Linked DNA regions of Homo sapiens. The protein of the gene in region 1 interacts with the protein of each later gene in a pairwise test. Each region holds a gene or a part of one and is shown on either strand. Other genes may lie near its edges.

Region 1 (3,500 bases):
GATGTGGAGAACACTGCCCTCTAGGCTGTTTCAGCACTTTGAGACTCAGTGTTCACATATATAGTGAAGAGGTTGGTTTGTAGGTTCTCTAAGCTTTGTTACTCTTCCAGGATTCTATGATTTCTATTTACTTATTCTTCTTAGAGGTGTGTGCTTATACTCCACATGAATTTCAAATGTACAGAAGCCTGTACCATTTCAAAGATATACTGACCATCCTTGTGCTAGACACAGATATTAATTTTATTCAGTGACAAATGATACATATATTTGCATTGATATTTGCTTGGTGGGTTATTTATATGTGCATTTTTATAGTATATGAAAAATGGTAGCGTTTTGCCACCTCATAGAAGCTATCTGCTAATATTATTTATAATTTTTCAGTATTGTGTCCCTGTAGCAATCCATAGAGAGCAAATATTAAGTTAGTTGAGAAATGTAGATAAACTTTTCTATTTGGGATGTAAATAATGGTTTTCTTATTGATGCAGATTAATCACATCTAGACTTTTCTGTATGATCATATAGGAGAATGTATGTTAAGGTTAGCCTTTGTTTTCCAGCTTTTCTTTATTTTTGAATAAGAATAGGGTTTTGCAGTCATTTATGGGAAATTAATATGAACTATGGCAACACTTTTAAATTACATCTATATGCCATATATTACATCAATCTGATAATTTTATAATACTTGTGAAAAGGTGTTTTAAAATGAGAATGTTTTTCTCATCTTTACCCTTTAACTATTCTTAAATGAAAGTGGCACACATGATATTAGGGGAGATAAATATAGTAAAGATAATGTATGTGCATAGTGCAGATGTAGAATCTCATAGAGGTTTATACATGTTGCTAAAGTGCTCTTTTTCAGTAATGGGCTTATTATCATAGCCATATGTAGTCTATTTCAGAATTTAAATTATATATAAGTAACCTGAAATGTGTTTTTGAAGCTATGCAGTAATACCATGTTTGAATTGGCTTTGTTTGAATAACCTTTGATGCTACGCAACATGTGGACCATAAAAAAAAAGGATTTCTTAGAACATTAAGCAAAAATATTGTAAAAAAAAAAAGTAATGATTATATAAAAAGAGCAGTTCTGGCCATCTCATCCCTGAGCAGCTTGTATAAAATAGCATGTTTGACGATAAAAATATAGATATGTAAGCACATTGTATAAGTTGGGATACATACATAGCAATGAAGGGAGCTGATGTATGTGGGATGTGTGTGTGCCTAGTAATATCTGCTGAAATAGTTCCGGCAGTCTACAGGAGGTACATTTACTTCCCATGTGCAATTTGGTTTTCGAAGAGTATTAGAAAAAAAGATTATCATCTTATTTACTATTTCTCCTTTTTCTCCTTTTTTTCCTCCTTCTCCTCTCCTTCTCTTTCTTCTTCTCATTCATCGTCTCTTTCCTTTTCTTATTCTCCTCCTCTTTTTTTCTTTTTTGGATCTAATGAAAGGAATTAGAGAAACACTTGAAGAGTGAAGAAGATAGGTGAGGGTGTTTCTTGAATGATAATTTAGAAAATCTGCATTTAAAGGAAAAATGTGAATAATATTTTACCTTTAGGTATATCCAACTGGGATTTTGACTTTCTCACTTTTACCCCACAATACTATATATAGCTTTATGCAAAATGTTTTGCACGGATCCTATCATTTTCCAGTTTACACAAGTAAAAGTCGTCATATCTGAGTTCAAGCAAACAGTGGAGATTTATAGAGTGCCATTTTACAGATTTATTTCTAAAGAAAAGTATTGCTGTATTTCTTAAAGGTTCTCCAGGTATAGATCTATCAACCTAAATCAATACATTGGCATAGATATTGCTTTTCTCCTTCTTCTCTTCTTTTTTTTTCCATGTGTGCCTTTATTAGCTGAGCCACTACTTGAGGGTTTAAGGTCTTTGTGAGGGGCTTGGAACACCCAATGTTGGGGGAGGGAGGCGGGCGGTAGGGAAAGTATCTGAAAGGACTTCCTGAGCCAGCTGTAGGCTTTTCTTCTTCTTGTAAAAGAATTACTATATAAAGAATGAAGGAATGATTATAAACTCTTTTTAAAAATAAATACCTATCAACTCTACTGTTTTAGTAGTGTGTTATACAATGATAGAAGCATATAGCATCTAGGGTAGCATGCTTACCCAGAATACTTGACTCAACACAGTGTTGGAGTAACGGAGGCCTCAATCCTTAGTGTTTTCTCCTCCATTTGCAGCCAATCCTTAGGCTCTTTCATCTAATCACATGAGGTTTAAATACATGTTTGGATTGATAATTCTAAAATTGCCCTAATCATTGCATGGAGGGATATAAGATCCATCAGCACAGAACTTGGCTGTTGTATATACTGTTGATCTCCAGTGCTTGCATCAGTGCTTGACATACTCACCTGACTACTTGACGTCTTTGCTTCATGTCCAATGAGAATGTACAAAACTCAAGCCTAAGACAGAATCTTCTCTTTCTAGCCATTCCCATCACAGTAAATGGCTTCCACCATTCATAGGCTTTTTCATGACCCCCAATGAGGAACCATTTTTCACTTGTTCTCACAACTTGTATTCAACTTGTTCTCAGAATTGTGCAACCATCACTACAATCTAACTTTAAAATGTTCTTAATTACCCAAGAAAGAAACTATGTAGCTTGTTCCACCATCCCTCCACCAACCACAAGAAATCACCACTCTACTTCTGCCTCTGTGGATTTGTCTTTTCTGGACATTTTATATATAAATGCAATCATACAATATATGATGTCATTTTGTGACTAGCTTCTTTTCTTTAGCGTAATGTTTTTAAGGGTCATCCGTGTCATAGCATATGCATCAGTACATCATTCTTTTTTATTGCCAAACAATATTCCTTATCATCTATCCTTTGGTTTACTAGTTGATGAACATTTAAGTTATTTCCATTTTTGGCTATTATAGATATTGCTGCTTTGAACATCCACGTACTAACTTTTGTGTGAACATATGTCTTCATTTAACCTGGGATGGAAATGCTGGGTTGTATGTTTAGTCTGTGTTTCACATTTTGAGGAACTGCAAGACTATTTTCCAAAGCAGCTGTGCTACTTTACATTGCCATTAGCAATATATGAAGTAGATATTTTCTTTTAATTGATCATGGAAAGAAAGAGTCGAAGGGCCTTATGAGTTGGGTATGATGTTTTGAAGTGAAACAATTTTATATTATACTAATCTGTCTCAAATCCCCAATAGTCCTGATTTCTAATCCCTTCAGTGGTTGTTGTCTTCTAAGTCTTCCTCAGTTGCCTCGTAAAACTTTACAAAGATAGTACCTCAGTTGAACTTGTCACTTTTAGCAGAGATCTCAGCAATAGTAAATATAAATCATAGAATGATAGCATCTCGGAGCCATTATGAATATTTGCAGCTATATTGCACAACTCTCTTATTGGTTGGGCACATGGAGAACTGAAGCTTAGAGATTTTATGTGCCTTGTCACAGATCCCA
Region 2 (3,500 bases), on another chromosome or scaffold:
TAGAGTTTCCAGTTTTTCTGTTCTGTTTTTTCCCCATCTTTGTGGTTTTATCTACTTTTGGTCTTTGATGATGGTGATGTACAGATGGGTTTTCGGTGTGGATGTCCTTTCTGTTTGTTAGTTTTCCTTCTAACAGACAGGACCCTCAGCTGCAGGTCTGTTGGAATACCCTGCCGTGTGAGGTGTCAGTGTGCCCCTGCTGGGGGGTGCCTCCCAGTTAGGCTGCTCGGGGGTCAGGGGTCAGGGACCCACTTGAGGAGGCAGTCTGCCCGTTCTCAGATCTCCAGCTGCGTGCTGGGAGAACCACTGCTCTCTTCAAAGCTGTCAGACAGGGACATTTAAGTCTGCAGAGGTTACTGCTGTCTTTTTGTTTGTCTGTGCCCTGCCCCCAGAGGTGGAGCCTACAGAGGCAGGCAGGCCTCCTTGAGCTGTGGTGGGCTCCACCCAGTTCGAGCTTCCCGGCTGCTCTGTTTACCTAAGCAAGCCTGGGCAATGGCGGGCGCCCCTCCCCCAGCCTCGCTGCCGCCTTGCAGTTTGATCTCAGACTGCTGTGCTAGCAATCAGCGAGATTCCGTGGGCATAGGACCCTCCGAGCCAGGTGTGGGATATAGTCTCGTGGTGCGCCGTTTTTTAAGCCGGTCTGAAAAGCACAATATTCGGGTGGGAGTGACCCGATTTTCCAGGTGCGTCCGTCACCCCTTTCTTTGACTCGGAAAGGGAACTCCCTGACCCCTTGCGCTTCCCAGGTGAGGCAATGCCTCGCCCTGCTTCGGCTCGCGCACGGTGCGCGCACCCACTGGCCTGCGCCCACTGTCTGGCACTCCCTAGTGAGATGAACCCGGTACCTCAGATGGAAATGCAGAAATCACCCGTCTTCTGCGTCGCTCATGCTGGGAGCTGTAGACCGGAGCTGTTCCTATTCAGCCATCTTGGCTCCTCCCTATTCTGTGGTCTTAAAGCATCTATCTCAGTCTTTTTCTACTTATACACTCAAGAAACTAGCCTGGAGTATTGGCATGATTTATTATGGACAAGAATTTTCCAATTCGTTTAGAGTGACAGGGCCCAAAATCCTTAGTTGTAAAGGAGTGCGACAAGAACTATATCATCCTAAATAAATTCCAAAATCAGAAACTCAATAATAGCTTCAAACTATTCCTAAAAGTCTTCACATTTATTTTAGCAAAATATACTTAGAGAATTTACATCTTTCTTAATTGTTTACTGTAAATCAGAATCCCCCCGACACACCTGAGAGCTATGGTCCCTGCTGGTGTGCATTTCCACATCAAACATGATCTGCCCATCTTCTTGTGGCGAAGGGCTAGAAGAGAAGGAATTCAGCTATTAGTTTTAATTCTCACTTTGTCAAATGACTTAGTCTCTACTAGAAATTAGAAAATTAAAAGTTACAGCAGTATGGCTTTGAAAAAGCAAATCAGAGAATATATCATAACCCTATACAAGAAAAATTTATGTGATATTAAAAGGCTAAATGAAATTGAGCATTCTTACTCCCAAAATGTTCTGCACTTTTTCAGTAGTAATGAAATCCTTCAAAATGATAAATTTGCAAAGGAAATACTATCTACAGACACAAACTGTCACATTCTCTTATATTTACTCTTTTGTCCACTAAAGGTAAAATAATCTTCAAATTCAGGAACTTCAGAGTTCTTTTTCTCAAAGTTCCCTCATCATTAAATAATTCACCAGTAGTTCTCAAAGTGCATAAGGTAGTTCTCAAAGACGCTTTCAGAGGGTCTTTGAGGTTACAGTTCCTTTCTCAATACTAGTAGGATTTATTTGCCTTTTTCATTCTCATTCTCCCATGTGTATAGTGGAATTTTCCAAAGGCTACATGATGTGTGATAGCACAACAGTTAGAATGCAAACACAGATGAGAACCAGCTGTCTTCTATTAAGCTTGGTATTAGAGATTTGTAAATGTGTAAAACAATGCCACTATTCTTATTAACTTGGAGGGTTTATAGAAAATAGGTATTTTCACTAAAAAATGCTACTTATGTTAAAATGTATTATTTTTGAATGAATATATATTTTCTCAGTTTTAATTTCTAATATAGTAAATATCAAAATATATAAACCCACAAACAAGTTTTTTGGGGTCCCTAATGATTTTTAAGAATGTAAAGGTATGTAATGACCAAAAACTTTGAGAACCACTATTTTACTTATTTCAGAAATATTTGCTTTGAGATATTTCAGAGTGAATTATATAACTTATATATTAATATAAAACCTTTATGATTGCACAAAATACATTCTTAGAACTGTAAAAATTTACAAATAAGTTTTTAGACAAAAACAACATGATCACAAACTGCACTTGATACAAGAGATGAACAGAATGTGCTAAGTTAATTTCTTAGCTTTATTAATGATTTCTTGTATAAAAACTGAAAGTCACTGGGGATCCTTCACTACATACACAAACCCTCCCCCAAAATCTAAAATAGAAATAAAAAATATTTGGGGCTTAACTTGCTGAAAAGAATAGATATTAACTATTAAAGTTATCAAGAGTATGTATATAATGTTAATTAATGTATAGAGACGTTGGTGAGACTGACTCAGAAATAAGATCGTCAGAAATTTATCAGACAGATTAGGCCTAGGAGTCTTTTAGACTAGTATAATTGACATAGGAGATTTTTAAATGGGGACAGGAAAACAGAAAAGCTGGTTCTGTATCAAACCAACGTCATATATATTTAGGAAATTTTTGTCTTGAACTAGCACAGGAGTCAACCCGAACTGGGCACTCCTACTGGCCTCAGTTTACTATCTTTGTGCTCATAACTGTTGGGTTCACAGCTACACATCAAGTTAAGGGTCAGCCTTACATAGCCGTGACCAGGTCAAGGCAGTCAGGGTGACAAAGTCAAGAATCCTATGGAAGCATTGCTCTGCTTCTATATGCTTCTTCACACTGGTACCAACCTCTTCTCTAAACTGTTTACTCCTCCTAACAATTTGGAATGCATTAGAGCTTCACCCATGGCACATATTAGAATCGGCTGGGGAGCTTTTAAAATATTGTGACGTCTCTACCCTGCCCCTGTCAACCAAAATGAGAAGTTCTTGAGATGCAGTCCATGTGCTGCCATTTTTAAAAGCTTCTGGGTGAATCTAGTGTGCCGTCAAGGTGAAAACCCCTGTGACAGGGTGAAAGGCAAAGCAGAACACACTGGGGTTCCCAGCTAACAACCCCTGCGGCAACACAAATATTTCTATGGAATAATTTTTAAGTTGAAAATATACATAAATCAGCTCTAGGACTGATACCCAACAACCCTAAAACATTTCCCCCTACAAGAAACACTTTCCAATTACTTTTCACATATAGAGACGCATGGCAATTCAGATGATGTGAGTTTTGAAGACACTCCTCAATGGTAAAGCGTGTTAGTAGGCTATCCCAGAAGACTCGAGTTCTAGCCATTCTCTGAAAGATGACCACTAATCTAGGGCCTGGA

What was found. The genes of interacting proteins can lie anywhere in the genome.
Region 2: the proteins of ROBO2 (region 1) and BNIP3L interact in a two-hybrid assay, tested with the Homo sapiens proteins (one large-scale study listed by BioGRID and IntAct).

What each region holds. Positions count from the first base shown.
Region 1 is NC_000003.12:77,043,099-77,046,598, forward strand, and holds part of ROBO2 (roundabout homolog 2 isoform 23 precursor), read left to right. Parts: intron 1-3,500. UniProt on the Homo sapiens protein: Receptor for SLIT2, and probably SLIT1, which are thought to act as molecular guidance cue in cellular migration, including axonal navigation at the ventral midline of the neural tube and projection of axons to different regions during neuronal development.
Region 2 is NC_000008.11:26,393,054-26,396,553, reverse strand, and holds part of BNIP3L (BCL2/adenovirus E1B 19 kDa protein-interacting protein 3-like), read right to left. Parts: intron 1,325-3,500; coding exon 1,252-1,324; intron 1-1,251.